Homo sapiens: one gene and its partners. The protein of the gene in region 3 interacts with the protein of the main gene of each other region in a biochemical or structural test. Each region holds a gene or a part of one and is shown on either strand. Other genes may lie near its edges.

Evidence for each region. The genes of interacting proteins can lie anywhere in the genome.
Region 1: the proteins of ITGB3 (region 3) and MIIP form a complex in vitro, tested with the Homo sapiens proteins (one study listed by BioGRID).
Region 2: the proteins of ITGB3 (region 3) and FGFR1 form a complex in vitro, tested with the Homo sapiens proteins (one study listed by BioGRID).

What each region holds. Positions count from the first base shown.
Region 1 is NC_000001.11:12,015,528-12,022,497, reverse strand, and holds the start of MIIP (migration and invasion-inhibitory protein), read right to left. Parts: upstream 3,001-6,970; 5' UTR 2,946-3,000; exon of another isoform or gene 2,524-2,945; intron 854-2,523; 5' UTR 772-853; coding exon 658-771; intron 404-657; coding exon 56-403; intron 1-55.
Region 2 is NC_000008.11:38,410,643-38,416,662, forward strand, and holds the end of FGFR1 (fibroblast growth factor receptor 1 isoform 1 precursor), read right to left. Parts: intron 5,419-6,020; coding exon 5,228-5,418; intron 4,260-5,227; coding exon 4,137-4,259; intron 3,988-4,136; coding exon 3,917-3,987; intron 3,648-3,916; coding exon 3,510-3,647; intron 3,382-3,509; coding exon 3,276-3,381; intron 3,163-3,275; coding exon 2,986-3,162; 3' UTR 1,954-2,985; coding exon of another isoform or gene 1,747-1,953; 3' UTR 501-1,746; downstream 1-500. UniProt on the Homo sapiens protein: Tyrosine-protein kinase that acts as a cell-surface receptor for fibroblast growth factors and plays an essential role in the regulation of embryonic development, cell proliferation, differentiation and migration.
Region 3 is NC_000017.11:47,256,826-47,263,852, reverse strand, and holds part of ITGB3 (integrin beta-3 precursor), read right to left. Parts: intron 1-7,027. UniProt on the Homo sapiens protein: Integrin alpha-V/beta-3 (ITGAV:ITGB3) is a receptor for cytotactin, fibronectin, laminin, matrix metalloproteinase-2, osteopontin, osteomodulin, prothrombin, thrombospondin, vitronectin and von Willebrand factor.

The DNA of each region.
Region 1 (6,970 bases), on a different chromosome or scaffold from region 3:
ACTGAGGCCCAAGGAAGCTCCTCCCATCAGCAGATGTCCCGCTCTCCCACGTTACCTTGGACAGCTTGCTCTGTTGAGCCAGGATGGACCTCGGGGTCTGTGCCTCCTGGGGTCCTGGATCACCCAGCCTCCCTGAGGGCTCTGGGTCCCTCAGGCTTGAGGTGCCCAGCGAGGGTGCTGAGTGGGGTCTCGGTCGGCCCAGGGACTCCTGGTGCTGGCATTTGGCAGGTGGGAGAGAGGCCACCCCCGATCTGGCCACATCACGGAGGTCCCCTCGACAGGCATCTGGTGGGCCCCACACGGAGGACCGGCCCCGTGGGCAGGAGGTGCTCAAGGAAGTTGAGGACGTCTCTGGGGTCGATGGAGTCTCTGAGTTGTAGCTGCTGCTGGATTCCAGGCTTGACTGGAGAGAGGGGCCGGGTCACCCAGGGAGTGGCTGCCAGAACCTACCCACCGGGCCTACGCCAGGCACCAAGGCAAGCATCCTCATCCTGCTCCGGCCTCAGCAGTGACCAAGGCCAGTCTCTTCCCTCCCCAGCCCTCAATGTCCCATCATCAGTAAAATGGGTGTATTGAACAAGATGAGCCCAGAAGCCTGGATGCTGGCCTGAAGGTCAGGTAGCCCCTTCCTCTGGGGTTCCCAAGGCGGGCACGCACCTCCGAGGCTGCCCTGGCCACTGACCGCCGCACAGCATCCTGCCCCACCCACAGCTGCCTCAGGAGCTCCAGATTGAGCAGCCGCAGCTGTGCCAGTTCCTCAGCCTCCACCATCCTGGGCCTCTCTCAGCAGGTGTCACTTGCCCCTGGGCCGCAGGATGTCCTCAGGGCTGGGTTCCAGGCCCAGCTCTTCTACCTGAAGTCAAGACAGCAGGACACGGGGCTCAGTAGGGTGCCCTGTGGTGCCAGAGACCCCCATTCGACACTCTTTAACTGTACTGCCTCAGGCAAGTTATTTAACTTCTCTGTGCCTCAGTTTCCTCATCTGCTGGACGACAACAGTATCTACCTCATACGATTGTTGTTAGAATTAAAGAAAGCATGTTAAGCCTGGACAACATTTGTAGAAACATTTTTTTTTGTTTTGTTTTTTTGTTTTTTTTTTTTGAGATGGAGTCTTGCTCTGTCGCCCAGGCTGGAGTGCAGTGGCGCAATCTCGGCTCACTGCAAGCTCCGCCTCCCGGGTTCACGCCATTCTCCTGCCTCAGCCTCCTGAGTAGCTGGGACTACAGGCGCCTGCCACCACGCCCAGCTAATTTTTTGTATTTTTAGTAGAGACGGGGTTTCACCGTGTTAGCCAGGATGGTCTCGATCTCATGACCTTGTGATCCGCCTGCCTCGGTCTCCCAAAGTGCTGGGATTACAGGCATGAGCTACAGTGCCTGGCCAAAAAAAAATTTAATTAGCTGGCCATGGTGGCACTTGTCTGTGGCCCCAGCTACTCAGGAGGATAGCTTTAGCCCAGGAGACCCAGGCTGCAGTGAGCCATGGTTGCATCACTGTAAAAAAAACAAAAAACAGGCCAAGTGGCTCACGTCTGTAATCCCAGCACTTTGGGAGGCTGAGGCAGGAGGATCACCTGAGGTCAGGAGTTTGAGATGAGCCTAGCCAACGTGGCGAGAGACCTCGTCGCTACTAAAAATGCAAAAATTAGCCGGGCGTGGTGGCACGCGCCTGTAATCCCAGCTACTCGGGAGGCTGAGGCAGGAGAATCACCTGAACCCGGGAGGCAGAGGTTGCGGTGAGCCGAGATCGCACCATTGCGCTCCAGCCTGGGCGACAGGGTGAGACTCCGTCTCAAAAACAGCAACAACAACAAACAATTAGCCGGGTGTGGTGGTGGGCGCCAGTAATCCCAGCTACTCAGGAGGCTGCTGAGGCAGGAGAATCGCTTGAACCTGGGAGGCGGAGGTTGTAGTGAGTGGAGATCACACTACTGCACTCCAGCCTGGGTGACAGAGCAAGACTGTCACACACACACACAAAATACAAAAAACAAAGCACTCAGTACAGTGCTTACTTAATACAGTGCTTACAGTGGTATACAGTAAGCATTCAATAAACGTCTATTATTACCAAAATGGCTGGGGCAAGGGCATGCTTCCTTTTTTTCTTGGCTCACTGCAACCTCCGCCTCCTGGGCAGTGGTTTGGACAAGCTTGCTTTATAACTGGTGAGTCCAACACAAATCAGGCTTCAAAAGGGATTCTTCCTCCTTTCCTGCCCTCCCTTCCTCCTTCACTTTCTTTTTACATATGAAGAAACCAAAGCTCAGGGAAGTTAAGCAACTTGCCCCAAGTCACACAGCTAGCAAGAGGCTAGATCTGAACCAAAATTTGACTCCAGGGTCCATGAGTTCAGGGTTCTTGGAAAGCCTTTCCCTGGAAGTGTGGGGGAGCCTGGGAAAACTCCGCCTCCTCCTCCCAGCCCTTGCCCCCCACCTCCAAGGATCCTCAGGATCGGGTGCAAGGTCTGGAGCACAGAGTAGCCGACTACCCCGGAACCTCCCCCACACACGTATATTACCCCGCAGGGCCGGGGGGCACGGAGATGCAGTCCAGAGGGGCCAACTGTTTGATCCGCAGGACAAAGATCCCGGCCCCCACCCCTAACTGGCCAAGTGGCTCTGGGCCACACCCCTATAGTCAGAGGGTCGCCGTTTTCGCACGGGGTCAAAGGGCACAGCAGGCCTTGCCCTCCCCTGGCCCCGGCCGCGCTTTGGAAAGGGAAAAGCTGAGCGGAGACACCGGGAAAGCGACGCTCCAGAAACACCGGGGCCGCAGAAGTAACAGAGGGCGAGCGGGCGGACGCCGAGGCGGGACCCCCGCAGAGGCAGATGCAGCCTACCCTTCTTTTCCACTGCGGCCCCCGAGCCCCTCGCGGGAATGCACGTGGGGCCTCCTGCCGAGCCCTTCCGCCCCACCCCAGTCCTGCCGCCCAGCACTCACCCGGCAGAATCCCCTAGCATGCGCCGCCGTAGCAGCCGCAGCCGCCTGAGCCGTTCCAGGGGCCTCGGCCGGCCGTCTTGATTGGTCAGGTGAGGGGCAGGGCCGGGACGTCTGGTGAGCGTTACTCGGCGATCCGAAGTGTCAGTTTCAGCGTGGGGGCGGGACTAAGAGCGGAGCTACACAACCGATTGGTCAATTTTCGAGGCCGGTGCGGAGGTCGATTCCTGGAATGGGGCGGGCCCCGGAAGGGCGAGCTCCGATTGGTCAGCTGCGGGACTGGATACGCTGAGTTCAGCAGCGGCAGTTTCAGTCAGGCTGGGCGGCCTAGGCTCGGCGCAGGCGGCAGTCCGGAGCGGCGGGGTAGGTGGGGCAGGCGGCTGGCTACTCATTGTACTCATCGTTTCATACTTTTCTTTTTTTTTTTTTTTTTGGAGACGGAGTCTCACTCTGTTGCCCAGGCTGGAGTGCAGTGGCGCGATCTCGGCTCACCACAATCTCTGCCTCCCGAGTTCAAGCGATTGATTCTCCTGCCTCAGCCTCCCGAGTAGCTGGGACTACAGGCGAGCGCCACCATGCCCGGCTTTTTTTTTTTTTTTTTTTTTTTTTTTTTTTTTTTTTGTATTTTTAGTAGAGACAGGGTTTCACTATGTTGGCCAGGCTGGTCTCGAACTCCTGACCTCGTGATCCGCCCGCCCCGGCCTCCCAAAATGCTGGGATTACAGGCATGAGCCACTGCGCCCGGCCTGCTTTATACTTTCATTCAGGTTTTTAGCGAGTGCCCGCTTTGCGCCAGAAGATAAGGACTACACAGTAAACAAGAAAGTGTAGTATTGGGGCCGGCCGCGGTTGCTCACGCCAGTAAACCTAAAAATACAAAAATTAGCCGGGCGAGGTGGCCGGCGCCTGTAATCCCAGCTACTAGGGAGGCTGAGGCAGGAGAATCGCTTGAACCCAGCTACTAGGGAGGCAGAGATTGCAGTGAACCGAGATCGCGCCACTGCACTCCAGCCTGGATGACAGAGCAAGACGCAAGACTCCATCTCAAAAAAGAAAAAAAAAAAAAAGATACCCAGCCTGGGCAACATGGCAAAACCCCGTCTCTACAAAAAATGAGCCAGGCACGTACCTGTAGTCCAGCTACTCGGGAGGCTGAGATGGGAGGATCACCTGAGTCCAAGAGGCTGAGGCTGTGGTGAGCTTTGATTGCACCACTGCACTCCACCCTGACTGAGAGACCCTGTCTCAATAAATAAATTAATTTAAAAAAGAAAGAAAGTGTGGTATTGGCGTCCAGGTAGACAAATGGATCAATGCAACAGAATAGAGTTCCGATATGTGAGCAATTAATTTTTGACAAAAATGAAAGTGCAATTCAGTGGAGAAAGGATAATGCCTTCGGCCCGGGGCGGTGGCTCACGCCTGTAATCCCAGCGCTTTGGGATGCCGAGGTGGGCAGATGGCTTGAGGTAAGGAGTTACAGCCCAGCGACACCCAGCACCCCCCCCAAAAAAATTTATTTTATCAATAATGTGTGTGGAAACTTGGGAAAACAAGAAGAGATGGTGTCTTCAACAAATGTTGTAGGTATAATTGGATATCCACACACTCATCCTAAAAAAAAAAAAAAGAAACCCATATGCAAAAATTAACCTAGAATGGATCATAGATCTAGTTGTGAAACCTAAACTATATAACTTAGAAAAACTGGGGCCGGGCGCAGTGGCCCACGCCTGTAATCCCAGCACTTTGGGAGGCCGAGGCGGGTGGATCACCTGAGGTCAGGAGTTCAAGATCAGCTTGGGCAACATGGCGAAACCCCGTCTCTACTAAAAATACAAAAATTGGCTGGGCGCGGTGGCTTACGTCTGTAATCCCAGCACTTTGGGAGGTCCAGGCAGGCGGATCACCTGAGGTCGGGAGTTCCAGACCAGCCTGACCAACATGGAGAAACCCCGTCTCTACTAAAAATACAAAATTAGCCGGGCATGGTGGCGCATACCTGTAATCCCAGCTGCTCGGGAGGCTGAGGCAGGAGAATCGCTTGAACCCGGGAGGCGGAGGTCGTGGTGAGCCAAAATCGCACCATTGCACTCCAGCCTGGGCAACAAGAGTGAAACTCTGTCTCAAATTAAAAAAAAAAAAAAAAAAGAATGAAAAGAAGATAGGTAGCCCCTCTACCTCCAGAAGAGCCGAGGGTGATAACACCAGGCACCGAGCTAGCAGGAAGCCCTCCGACTCAAGAAGATGGCTGATCCTTGGCAGGAATGCATGGATTATGCAGTAACTCTAGCAAGATGAGCTGGAGAGGTAGTTTGTGATGCTCTAAAAAATGAAATGAGGCCGGGCACGACGTCTCAGGCCTGTAATCCCAGCACTTTGGGAGGCCAAGGCGGGCGGATCAGTTGAGGTCAGGAATTTGAAACCAGCCTGGCTAACATGGTGAAACCCCGTCTCTATTAAAAATAGAAAAAAATTAGCCGGGTGTGGTGGTGGGCACCTGTAATCCCAGCTACTCGAGAGGCTGAGGCAGGAGAATGGCTTGAACCTGGGAGGCGGAGGTTGCAGTGAGCCGCGATTGTGCCACGGCACTCCAGCCTGGGTGACAGAGTAAGACTGTCTCAAAAAAAAAAAAAAAAAAAACTATATATATATATGAACCCACATTCACTACTGGTGGGGATATAAGACAGTATAACCACTTCACAAAATCTGTAGAAGTTAAACATAAATTTACCATATGGCCCAGCAAGTCCAGCCTGAGATATCTACCTACAAAAAATGAAAACATCTGCCTACACAGAGATTTGAACACTAATGTTCCTAGCAGAAATACGCATAATGTTGTCTAGAAGATCACCAGGGTGGCTAAATAGTAGAAAGGAGCACTTTATTGTTGATACTTGTTTGCAAACCAGGAAGAGATGGTTTGCAGCATGCACTGAAGGTGCTCTCTTCCAAGAGAGAAAGGACAGGTTGGGTTTTATGCCTCACAGGGCCCATATTCATACATATTTAGCAGGTTTGAGGGAAAAGCTGTATACATATTTATGAGAGGAGGTGAGCTCATGTGCATTGGCTAAACAGGTTGTTCACAGCTTCTGTAAGCTGGCTGAAACTGGCTTAAGTTCTGCAGTTGCTTATCAGAAAAGAATGTTTATTGGCTGGGTGTGATGGCTCATGCCTGTAGTTCCGGCACTCTGGGAGGCTGGGGCAGGAGGATCACTTGAGCTTGGGAATTAGAGGCCAGCCTGGGCAACACAGTAAGATCCCATCTATTTTTTTTTTTTTTTTTTGAGACGGGGTCTCATTCTGTTGCCTAGGTTGGAGTGCAGTGATGCAATCTCGGCTCACTGCAGCCTCCACCTCCTGGGTTCAAGTGATTCTCCTACCTCAGCCCCCGGAATAGCTGGGACTACCAGTGCACACCACCATGCTGGGCTAATTTTTGTATTTTTTGTAGAGACAGGGTTTTGCCAGATTGCCCAGGCTGGTCTCAAACTCATGAATTCAAGCGATCCTCTCACCTCAGCCTCCCAAAGTGCTGGGATTACAGGCATGAGGCACTGTGCCCAGCCAACATACATTCTCTATTTGAAAAATTAAATTAAAAAAAGAAAAAGAATATTTGTGTCCAGACATGGTGGCTCACACCTATAATCCCAGCACTTTGGGAGGCCAAGGTGTGAGGATCATTTGAGATCAGGAGTTCGAAACCAGCCTGAGTAACATAGTGAGATCCCTCGTCTCTACAAAAAAACAAAAAATTATCCGGGCATGGTGGCGCACACTTTTAATCCCAGCTATTCGGGAGGCTAAGGTGAGAGGATCACTTGAGTCTGGGAGGTCAAGTCTGCAGTGAGCCGTGATTGCGCCACTGCACTCCAGCCAACAAAAACCTACCTCAAAAAAAAAAAAAAAGTTTGTCAGACCGGTCCCCTGTGTAATCAGAGGCATAAGGGTTTGGTTTGTAAATCAAGACTTGAGATAATTTGCCTGATGGCTCCTGATGTTAGGGAGTTTAGCGA
Region 2 (6,020 bases), on a different chromosome or scaffold from region 3:
AAAACGAGCCACATCAGTGCTGCCCAGTTTTTCTGTAATGCCAAATCTAGGCTAAAGATTTCCCACTCACCACCAGCACACACTAGCAGGTAGTAGTTGGACCAATGTGACTTGAGAGCGGACTGGTGCTTCACCTAATGCCAACTGAAACTTCAGCTCGCTGGCTCCACCCAGTGGTGGCGAATAAGCACAGCAACCTCATTAACAATGAGACAGATTTCTTGCCTCATTTGATGCTCAATCTTACTTACCTGAGATCAATACATTACATTAGCAGGGCCAAGGGACCGATGATCTCCAGCCTATGGCAATTAGAAGAGACGGAAAGGCAGTATTGATTAATGCTGTGGTGATCCCAGCCCTAATCTTTTAACCCTCAGGAAACCAGACAGACTCAGTGCCTTCATGGCACAACATCTTCATTAGATAAACTGGATTCCTTTCCTCAGGAGACCCAATTTGGTCCTCTAAGTAAAACGGCCATTTCATTTTCTCTCAGGTCAATTTCACTGTCTTTTATTTGACAGCTAGCGCAGTCTTTGGGGAAATTTGTGGGTGATTTGAGTAGTAACAGCAAGGACATCACTGTAATTATGATAGTGCCTTATATTTTTCTAGCACCTCTCCCAAGGACTTATGAAGACTTTTAGATTCTTCATCCCTTCACACAACATTGCTTCAAGGTAGGGCCAAGGCAGAAATTATCATCACTGTTTTACAAGGAAAGACACTCCTGTGCGGTCTCAAAGCAAATGCTTTTAAGAGCTAAAAATTCATTTCCTAGTTCTGTTCACCAAATGATGCCTTCTTTAAACATAAATACAAATTGTAATGTTAGCAGGTGCTATTTACAGAGAGAAACAAAGAGAATTTTACAATAGTCGCCAACACTGCAGCTGCCAAAAAATCCCTAGCTCAGAAATTTAAAGCAGCAATCCCATTTTCCCTACAGAAATGAAAACATATTGAACTTTCTTTTGTATTTAGCAGTAATCCAGCAAAATATAAGCTTTAATATAGCGACTGAGGAGTGGTAGTTTGAGCCATGAGGTACGGGGGAGCCAGAATCCACTTAGTGAGGACAGTGATGACCAGCAGGTGGCAGAAGTAAATTCCAAGCAGCCAAAAAACCAAAAACATTCGGAGAATTTTCCCCCCGTTCCTGAGGGACAGGATGGAGTTTGGACAGGAAGAACTGTAAGAAGCCAAGATCTGCGACAGTCCCAACAAATACAGTCTGGTCACATGGATACAGGAAGGACGATCTGGGGAGGCATACCAACAAGAAACGAAGCCAGGGACCTGAATGCAAAACTAGCCTCAGGTGACATGTTCTCCTGCACTTAGAAGCACTGGCAAAACCATGCCCACATAGAGGGGGCAGACACATGTCTGGGTTTCAGTTTCTGCAGACCTTCATCATTTGTTTTCCTTTTTGTTTTCTCTGTTGCCCAGGCTGGAGTGCAATGGCGCAATCTCGGCTCACTGCAACCTCCGCCTCCCAGCTTCAAGGGATTCTGCCTCAGCCTCCTGTGGAGCTGGGATTACAGGCGTGTGCCACCATGCCTGGATAATTTTTGCATTTTTAGTAGAGATGGGGTTTCACTAAGTTGGCCAGGCTGGTCTCAAACTCCTGACCTGAAGTGATCTGCCCACCTCGGTGTCCCAAAGTGCTGGGATTACAGGCGTGAGCAACCGCGCCCTTGCTTTCCTCTTAATCACTGTAGCTCTACCCCGTGGCTATTCCTAGGTAGGTGCCCCCTCCCCAGCCCAACCCCACCGGTTTCCTTGGAGGAAACCATCCATGGTCGATGGCTGCTGGGCCTTGACTCTCTGCCCAGCGCCTCTACTGCATGGATGGGGTTCCTGCCCTCGAAGCAGACATCTTCTTTTTCTGACTTTCCAAAAGCAGCGGAGAGGCAGGAGGTGCGTCGTGAGGTCTGGGTGCAGGACCTAGGAAGAAGAGGTTACAAGGAACCTGCGCCGGGAGCATGCGGTGCCCTCGGGACAGACCTAGCCCCAGGGCCCGTGGGTGTCCCTTCTTTCCAGTGGACATTCCCACCCTTTTCATACAGCCCATAGATAAATGAAGCAGCAGCAATTTTTATTGAGGGACCTAAACTGAAAATAGGTTTAGAACATAATTTAAAAAAATAAAACAGCAAAAGTAGCAAAAAATATATGACCTTTTTAAAAACATTTTCCTTTTTTTTCTTTTTTGTTTTTAATATATAGCAACTGATGCCTCCCAGCCACCAGGAGCATCTTACCCGATGGGTAAATCTCTGGTAACGACCCTTTTAAAAAGACATGTAAATATATACTCAGATTTATACACTTTGTGTTTTCTTCATAGCTATATACAGAGCCCCCAGTTTGGGGCTGGGCCCCAGGGCCACAACACTGCCCCCAACCTGGCCTTCGCCTCACCATCCTCTGGTACCAGGCATTTGGTCAGCAAAGCAAACTAGTATCGGAATTAATAAGCCACTGGCACCACCTATCTGGGGCAGAGGTCACCTTCAATCGAGGCACGAAGCACTGACCTCCCTACTGCTGTAGCCCTGAGGACAAGGCACCTGCCACCAGAGTGCGAGGGGCTTATGGGTGAAGGCAAAACAGACCAAACCGACAGGAGAAAGCTCAGGAAGCTCTCACTTGCATGCCTGTTCATTGGCTCCCACTCCCTGCCCTCCAGGCAGTGCCTGGTGGCAGGGAGGGGTGTTGGTCCAACATCTGGGAGGGGATGAAGTGGCTGGCAGCAAAGATCTGCCTCTTTGCACCTCTCACCAGCAGGTGGAGAGGAGGTGGAGGGAGAGGTGAGCTGAGTGGGGTGAAGGCAGGCCACACAGGAAGGCCCCTGGTAGGCAGCCGGCTCCTGCCAGCAGGAAAGGGGACAGGGACGGACAGGTGGTGGGCCCAGCAGGGGCTGTGGGTGAGGGTTACAGCTGACGGTGGAGTCTGGGGAGGGCGTGTGGGTGGCAGTCAGCGGCGTTTGAGTCCGCCATTGGCAAGCTGGGCTGGGTGTCGGGGCAGGCAGGGCTCCTCGGGCAGCGGCTCATGAGAGAAGACGGAATCCTCCCCTGAGGAGCACGTAGAGCTCCGGGTGTCGGGAAAGCTGGGGGAGTACTGGTCCAGGGGCATGGACAGGTCCAGGTACTCCTGTGATGGGCGAGAGGAAGCAGCGATGGGCCGGGCCCCTCCTCCCTGCTCAGGGAGGTGCGTGCACGCAGTGGGGACGGCCTGAGCTCTGGCTCTGGCACGGGCAGCCTTACCTGGTTGGAGGTCAAGGCCACGATGCGGTCCAGGTCTTCCACCAGCTGCTTGAAGGTGGGTCTCTGTGAGGGCACTGCATGCCAGCAGTCCCGCATCATCATGTACCTGCGGCAGGACTGTAAGGTCAGGGACGTCTCCTGGAGATGGATACTCTCTAGTCTAGCCCCCTGCCCCTCAAGCCCACTCTTGCCCCAAGGCCTGGCTCAGGGCCTCCGACATCTCCTCGGGCTTACAGCTCGTTGGTGCAGTTACTGGGCTTGTCCATGCGGTGACCCTCCTTCAGCAGCTTGAAAAGTTCCTCCACAGGCACACCGGGGTATGGGGAGCCGCCCAGAGTGAAGATCTCCCACAGGAGCACCCCGAAAGACCACCTGCAAATGGGCGGAGAGCCACAGGGTGTTAGAGCTTCTCCGCCTCCCCTCCCCCAGCACAAATCCTCTACCCAGGGCAGTGCCAGGAGACAGCATGGAGAACAGATCAGCCTTTCAACATCTGGAGCAGAGGGAATGGCCACAGACAATGTTTTGTTTTTCTCTCTGGGGCAGAAAGAGGACTCCTCAGTCCAGGGAGAAAGCAGGACTCTACAGTGCTAGAAGCTCTCTATCCCACACCTCCCTGGCAATTGCTATTACAAACTCACACATCACTCTGGTGGGTGTAGATCCGGTCAAATAATGCCTCGGGTGCCATCCACTTCACAGGCAGTCGGCCCTGAAAGCAGCACAGGGGAGGTTGGAGTGGCCCCAGGCAGGGCCATGAGGGCACAGGTGGGAAGGGACTGGGGGGTGGGTTCTCAGCCCACCCCACTCCTTGCTTCTCAGATGAAACCACCAGCACAGGGCGGCCTTGTCGGCACTCACGTTGGTTGTCTTTTTATAGTAGTCGATGTGGTGAATGTCCCGTGCGAGGCCAAAGTCTGCTATCTTCATCACATTGTCCTCTGTCACCAGGACATTCCTGGCTGCCAGGTCTCGGTGTATGCACTGAGGAAGGAGGAAGGGAGAGCGGGAGGCGGGGAGGTGAGGGAGCTGGAAGGCTCTGGGCGGCCGCCACCCATGCAACTAGCCGACTTGTCTCATAGAACTTCTGCCACACTGCTCTGCCCCCCGAACCTTTGCTTTCCCTCTTCTAACATTCTCTGCCAGCTCCAGGCTTCTCATCACAGCAAGCGCTCCTCCCTTCCTTCCCCAAAGACTGGCCCCTTATGCCTCTGCTGCGTCTGCAGCGATGCATGCTCCTAGGTCCTGCCTCCCAGCACAGCAAGTCCACATGGGGCTGGGCTCAAACCAGGCCAGCCCTTACACACCAAACACTGCACTCAACACTCACAGACAGTTTCATTTTATCTTCATAACAATTCTACAACAGGTATTGTTATACTTTATTTTCTTTTGAGACAGGGCCTTGCTCTGTCGCCCCGGCTGGGGTGCAGTGGTGTGATCATGGCTCAGTGCAGCCTCAAACTCTTGGGCTCAAGCTAGCCTCCCACCTCAGCCTCCCGAGTAGCTGGGACTATCGGCACGCACTACCACACCCAGCTAATTTTTTAATTTTTTTTTTTTTTTTAAAGACGGGGTTTCAATATATTGCCCAACCTGGTCTCACACTCCTGAGCTCAAGCAATCCTCCCGCCTTGGCCACTGCACCCAGCTGATATTATTATTATTTTGTATTTGAAGAATTTTAAGATGCTAAGTAGCTGCCTGAGGCTACGCAGAAAGTGGCAGTGCACAGATCGGACCCTGCATCAGTCTGACCCCAAGGCCACCTGGCTACACTGGTGCTCCTGACTCTGCAGTTCCCAGAGAGCCTAAGACAACACACAGGGCACACAGGGCCAGTGCTCAGTGCATCCACAACGCCACCACAAGATGATAAGTCACAGGCTGGAAGACTAGGGGGGCTCTGTTCCCACCCTGGCATTACCCAGGGGAGCCTTCAGGTTCCACACCTTCTTGGAGGCCAGATACTCCATGCCTCGGGCCACCTGGTAGGCGCAGGACACCAGGTCCTTGGAGGAGAGCTGCTCCTCTGGGTTGTGGCTGGGGTTGTAGCAGTATTCCAGCCCTGGGGGCCTCCGGGCCTGCAGGTACTCCCGCAGGTTGCCCTTGGAGGCATACTCCACGATGACATACAAGGGACCTGCAGGCACAGGAGAAGAGGCCATGGGGCCAGCAGCAGGTGAGCAGGTTTGGCTTCACCTCAAAGAAACCCCACCCCCAGCAGCACACCCCGGCCAACCTCCCATCTCCTGCCTCCTCTTAGGGGACCTGGGAAATCCATTCTACTACCCAAAAAAAATCAGAGAAATAATTACTCCCAGCATAGTCCAGAAAATTCCCGAGCAACATTGGGGTAAGAGCCCCAGTTTGTCTGTTTATTTTGAGATGGAGTCTCACTCTGTTGCCCAGGCTGGAGTGCAGTGGCGCAATTTCGGCTCACTGCAACCTCTGCCTTCTGGATTCAAGTGATTCTCCTGCCTCAGCCTCCCAAGCAGCTGGGATTACAGGCATGAACAATGCCTGGCTAATTTTTTTTTTTTTTTTTTTTTTTTTTGAGATGGAGTTTTGCTCGTTGCCCAAGCTGGAGTGCAATGGCGCGATCTCGGCTAACCGCAACCTCCGCCTCCCGTGTTCAAACGATTCTCCTGCCACAGCCTCCCGAGTAGCTGGAATTACAGGCATGCGCCACCACGCCCGGCTACTTTTTGTATTTTTAGTAGAGATGGGGTTTCACCTGTTGGC
Region 3 (7,027 bases):
TGTCTTGACCACTGGCCATATCCTTTCATTGACCCTTCATGCTGTAAGAAAATAAAGCAGGATAGGCCGGGCATGGTGGCTAACACTGTAATCTGAGCACTGTGGGAGGCCAAGGCGGGTAGATCACCTGAGGTCAGGAGTTCAAGACCAGCCTGGCCAACATGGCGAAATCCAGTCTTTACTAAAACTAGAAAAATTAGCTGGGCATGGTGGCACGCACCTGTAATCCCAGCTACTTGGGAGGCTGAGGCAGGAGAATTGCTTGAACATGGGAGGCGGAGTTTGCAGTGAGCCAAGATCGTGCCACTGCACTCCAGCCTGTGTGATGGAGTGAGACTCTGCCTCAAAGGGAAAAGAAAGGGTGGGGGTGGGGGGGGCGGGGAATAGCAAGCAATGAGGGAAGGAGTCTCCTTTAAAGCATGTGGTCAGGAAAGGTCTCTCTGTGGAGCTGACACTTCAAGATGATGTTAATGGGAAGATCTAGGGCAGGTCCTGTCCTTGTAAATGAAGCCACATTATGTCTGGTTATCATCTCCAATGAGGTTAATTAGGTCGCCATGTGCTGAAGACTGCATAAAGCCCATTCCAGGGACAGAGTCCTGTCTTCTCTAAGGTTGTGGTCTAAAATTAACACCCAGCTCCTGAGAAATGTGGTAAGGCAGGAGCAGTAAAACAACAGATGGATATGGCAGAAAAAGCATGCAAAGCAGCAGGAAACCTCACGTCTAAAGCCATCTTTGCCCTTCCTCTGGCCGTATGACCTCAAGTACATCCCTTCATCTCTCTGGTGCTCTCTCCAAGGCCCAGTGCCTCTTTGAGTCTATGTCACATTCATAGTCGAGAAGTGATAACTGCTCTGTAGTATTTAACGGGTCTAACCAGCCACATCGGCCAAGCACCGGAGACTCCAAACAGCTGCTTCCTTTCCCCAGTGCTCCCGAGTTGTTAGGATTAAATGACATAACACGTATGAAAGAACCCTCTATAGTGGATGCTCAATAAATGTTCATTTCCTTCCCCCTTACTTTCACTCTAGTCACTTCCTACACCAGGAATCCCCATCCCCTCGCCTCCACCTCAGGGTCAGACGTGAAAGGGCCCTTTGTCTCTAACAGGATATAGTGAAGAAATCACTCTGGGCAGGAGACAAGAGTCCCCAGGGAGAGACCCAACCAATGCCACTGAGCCAGTTGTATGATCTTGGACAAGTCACTTCACTTCTCAGGAACTCCCTTTTTGCTTTTTTGTAAAACAAACAGGTGTCAAATTTGATGATCTTCAAGGTGCTGCCAGTCCTGGAAGTATCCACTCTTCCAGCCAGAAAACATCAACAGGGGGACTCATACCCTAGGAAGCCTAGCAACCCAAGGCATGAGAACCCTCAAACAAGGCACAAGTGGCCATTTCTTCCTGATGGCCTGATATTTGACTCAAACGCTGCATCTCAAGAGTTCTGGAAATTTTTATTAGCATCGACCCCACCTCATTCAGTATACAGAAGAAGCAGGTCTGTACCAAGCTGTCCGAGGCTCAGCCCAGGGGTGCCCTATTGGTGACCTCCTTGGCATCCTGCTGTCCAGTTCTGCAGCCTTCCTCCCCCAGCTCATGTGTTATGGGTGTGGACAGCAGGCCGCGGTGCTAACACCAGTCCTTACTGCCAGCCTGTCTTGGTAGGAAAGCAAACTGGTTCAACCGTTTGGGAGGACAAATTGACAACACCTACTAAAATTTAAATTTAAAATACGCATGCCCTTCGACCCACCAACTTTCATTCAAGAAATTAAGTCTGTAGAAACACTTGAACAAAGGTGCATAATAAATGAATAAGGATATCCCCTGCAGCTTTATTTGTAGTAGCAAATAATTGGGAATGATCCCAATGTCTGCCAACAGGGAATTGGTTAAGTAAATTCTGATATATCCATATAACAAAGAGTATGCCTTATGGCTAGAATTATAGCTCTTGGGATAAATAATGGAAAGCCATAAACTGACATAAAAAGATGCCTAGAGTATATTATTAAGAGACAATGGGCCAGGTGCGGTGGCTTATGCGTGTAATCCCAGCACTTTGGGAGGCCGAGGCGGGTGGATCACCTGTGGTTAGGAGTTCAAAACCAGCCTGGCCAACATGGCCAAACCCTGTCTCTATCAAAAACACAAAAATTAGCTGGGCGTGGTGGCAAATGCCTGTGATCCCAGCTACTCGGGAATCTGAGGCAGGAGAATTGCTTGAACCCAGGAGGCGGAGGTTGCAGTGAGCTGGGATCACACAACTGCACTCCAGCCTGGGCGACAGAGTGAGACTCCATCTCAAAAAAAAAAAAAAAAAAGACAATGATCCTATTATTGATTATCCTATTTGAGAAATAACAATAATGATAAATAATTATATATGTTGACAAATACATAGAAAAAAACTCTGCAGTAACTATCAACAGTGGTTATCTTTAAGGACAAGACTACAAGGAACTGGTACTGGTACTTTCTGCATTATATTTCTGAGCTGCCTTTTTTTAAATAATAAGCTTAATTACTTTTATAAGCTAAAAGAAAATTAAAGCTAATTTGAAATGTCCTCTGTTCTGCCTCCCTGTCGACATTTGCATTTATTTAAATGTAGGCTCCCCAGAGTCTGCTGGGCTTTCCACAAACTGCACCTTCAGCATCAAAACCTCTTGGAATGGCAAACTCAGCAGGAACACAGAAATGAGCTTTGGGGTATGGTTTGCATGAGGAGATGCTGGTCAAGGGATATAAATTTTCAGTTAGACAAGAGGAATAAGTTCAAGAGATCCACTGTACAACATGGTGACTATAGTTAATAACCGTATGTCATCTACCTGAAAATTGCTGGGAGGAGATTTTTAAGTGTTCTCACCACAAATAAATCAGAAGTATGTATGTGAGGTAATGCATATGTTATTTAACTTCATTTAACCATTCCACAATGCGCACATATTTCAAGACATCATGTTGTACATCATAAATATACATAATTTTTATTTGTCAATTTCAAACAATAATAATAATAAAAGAGAATGGAAAAAAAAAAAGGAATAAACTTTGTCAGGCCCACTCTCACAGCCTTCAAGAACTGCCCAGGGCAGCATGGTCTGTTCTCAACTTGTGGAAGTCCCAGAAAGGAAACACCACCCTCCCCTCCACTGGGGATTGGTCAAACATGCTCCTTGCAGGCGGCTCCAGCAAAGGCTCAACCTGGAGTTCAACACGTGCGATGGCTAAAGTTGGGGTCTGGAGCCATCAGTGGATCTCACAGACCCAGGTTTCTCTATCCAAAATTTCCATTAGCAAAGAGATGTAGGGTTGACTACAGGGACTTTTTAAGTGGCTACTGAATATGTCTTTTGCCAAACTTCTGGAGCTCTCTTCTAGTGCAAAGTTTTTCAAGCTTGATTTTAACAGCAGGATCTTCTTTTTTTCCCAAAGAAATCCTTACATGAACTCCAAATTGTTAATTAGTTAAAGGAGTTCCAGTTGAAGGTGGTGGGGAAGGGGCAGGAGCAAATTGAAGTATTTCCCTTCATCTTCTCTGTCCCACTTTGCAGCCCCTGGGACACCAAGAGACTGATGCCTAAAGGTAAAGTCACTTGTTCAAAGTCACCCAGCAAGCTGATGAAAAAGCCTGCAGAACTGTGAATCGAATGTAGGTTTCTTAATTCCAGATACGTTGTTCTTTCCACACTGAGCTTTTTTCTATATAAAAGGAAGTACTATATATCATGGGTTTAAGTAAAGGAATACACACACACACACAAATAAACATAAATGCGAGGGGAAATGTCTAAACAGAACACACCACCTGATTAATATGAACATTATAGGGGAATAGAATTAGAAGGGAACCAGCAATTTTAACGACTGACAATGATCCTATGTGGATGAACCTATTTGAGAAATAACAATATTTGTTTTGTTTTGTTCTGTTTTTTGAGACAGAGTTTTGCTCTTGTTGCTCAGGCTGGAGTGCAATGGCACAATCTCGGCTCACTGCAACCTCTGCCTCCTGGGTTCAAGCGATTCTCCTGCCTCAGCCTCCCGAGTAGCTGGGATTACAGACGCATGCCACCATGCCCAGCTGATTTTGTATTTTTAGTAGAGACAGGGTTTCTCCATGTTGGTCAGGCTGGTCTTGAACTCCTGACCTCAGGTGATCCGCCCGCCTCGGCCTCCCAAAGTGCTGGGATTACAGGCATGAGCCACCGCGCCCAGCCAAGAAATAACAATATTTGTTATTTTGACTTTTTTAAAATGTGTATCACCTTGTTCTTTTTCTTTCTCTCCTTGAATATTTAAACATCTTCACTAACTGAACTAAGAAATTGAACTAACTCAACTATAAAACCGAGAGAGGGGGGTAAGTAAATAGTCTTTTCATGGGAACATGACAGAAAAACAGAAATAAGACATCTAGTGTTAGATCTAGTGTTAGAATTTGTCTAGCAAGCTTTCTGGTTTTGGCCAAAAAGCCACCCACCCACCCACCCTCCCAAAAAAAAGGAAAAAAAAAAAGTCAAGTGGGTTGTTTTTTCAGAGATGCTACCAAAAATGTAAAAAGGTAGAATAGCCCCCAGGTTTACTTAACAACTTCTGACTCCAAGCATCATGACATACAATATTTGGCCACAAAATATCTGTTACTCCTATGAGCAAGAATAATAAGTGTTGGTTGCTACAGAATCCTCTCTAGTATCCTGAAGTCTTTAACTACTTAGCACATGGAAAATCTAATGACTTATATATAGCTAAATACATCTATCCAATTATAAAATTTAGAAGCTGAAAGCTGGGGAGCACCTCCAAAGTTTAACGGATCCAGTCCCACTGCTTTCAGGGTAACTGTTCCAACACGGAGGATGACGGAGTGGCCTCAGACAATGTCTTAGAGTTACTGATAGATGCAGCATCATAGATTAACCCCAAATGTATTGTGCTAAGTGAAAGAAGCCAGACTGAAAGTCTATACACTGCATGCTTTCATTTATATGACATTTTGTAAAACATAGAACTGCAGGGACAGGAAATAGATCAGCAGTTGCAACCGACGAGGGTTGAGGGTAGGGTATCGATTACAAAAGAGCTGGGGGGGCACCTGGCACAGTAGCTCACGCCTGTAATCCCAACACTTTGGGAGGCCGAGGTGGGCAGATTGCCTGAGCTCAGAAGTTCGAGACCAGCCTGGGCAATATGGTGAGACCCTGCCTCTAGAAAGAAAAAGAAGGGAAAAAAAGAGCTTGGGGGAATTTTAGGGGATGATGGAAAAATTCTGTATCTTGATGATGGCAATGGTTACTTGACTATATGCATTTGTCAAAATTCATAGAACTGTATGCACTAAAAAGGGTGAATTTTACTGTACATAAATTATACCTGAATTATCTAACAAAAAAAAAAAAAGAGTGTTTTTGGTGAGACTGTGTGTGTGGACAGAAAGGCAGATGCTATCACTTTTTTGCTGGAGAGTCTCACGTTTCAATAAATGCCAGCAGTTCCCACACGGGGAATAGGCAGTTCCCCTAAACAGAGTCATTTCCCTGCTCCCACCTTCATTTCCACTAGTGGCCTGAGCTCCATCAGGCACAATGAAGGTCCCACTCAGGAAGGGCCAAGGTTCAGGAAGAGGGAGCAGAGGCGATGGGGTGGAGCAGCCCACTCTGTGGGCAGCAGAGAGGGCTGGGTAAAACGAAGCGGTTCATCCCTGAAGCTGCTCAGTCACTCCCTCGGTTAATTATCTGTCTTCTGATTCATGAGTTGTGGTTCCTGTGGGCATGCTTCCTGGAGATTTCTGCCAACAAGGGAAGAAGGGTTCTTGGGACTGGGAGGGGATGATAACCTCAGATCCCAAGTAGGGTGGGGAGCTTTAGAGGAGAAATTTCGATCAGGAAATTCTAAAGTCATAGCCAGACTCCCCCTCCTCACTGTGGTGTGCTTGCCCCATCTTATGGTCTTCCCAGGAGACCTCTGTCACTCCTCACCCTTGCCCCAACACCCACACGTCCAAGGGGGAGAAAGGAGAATGTTGCCCTTCTAACGGCTCCTCCCAGGAGGGAAAAAAAGGCAGACACTTTACAGAGGATCCCTTGAGTTTTTCACACTCTCAGATCACAGGTCTAAATGGTGCAACAGTGCAGCGGCCCAAATGCCCAAAGAATTCATGATCTTGGCTATGTTTTCATACCCTCCAGATTATCCAAACGGAGCACTTGAGGATCTTGTATGAATGAGTGCAAATATTCAAATATTGGGTTTCTTAAAGGGAGGCACATCATCTATAGATGCCTTTACATAGCATTCCACAGATATTTGTTTTGCTGCCTATGTGCCAGGCAGTGGGCATAGAGTATTGAACAAAATAGACATGTCCCTCTTCTCATGGAACTTGAAGTCTTATAGATCCTTTTATCTTCCTCTTTTTTCAGATACAGGGCTTGAGGTTTTCTTATGGGTAAAGCAAATGTATAAGCCTTTTTCCTTCTTGGCTTCTTCTGTGGATTCTTGCCGGGTTAGAGTAGCTGAGATATGCCAAACCAGCAATGAGGAACGAGTTGAAATAAGAGGGACCCCCTCTCACATATGTGGGGGAAAGGGACCCCATCAGTTTCATTCTGGAAGCCTGCATAGCGCATATGCATGAAGTAGTAACAGCTTTTGCCTCCAATACATGGCAGATAGCATGGATAGGAAGAATAATGACAATAGTAGTTGTCATTCATTAAACACTTATTTTGTGCCTCTGTTTCATTTAATCAGCATAATCATAGGCATTGTTTCCTCTGCCTTACAAATGAGGAAACTGAGGACTCAAGAGATTAGGTAACTTATTTAAGGCCACACAGCCTACAGGAGACAAAGTCAAGAATCAAACCCACATCTTACTGGCTTTAAACCATAGCCCTCCCTTTCCGAAGCCAACAAGCCTTCCTGCTGTGTTTCTCCAGGACCTGAGGATACCTGCAGAGGGCTTCGATTGGAGAGCTTCTAGGATATAAACTCCAGAAGAGAAATA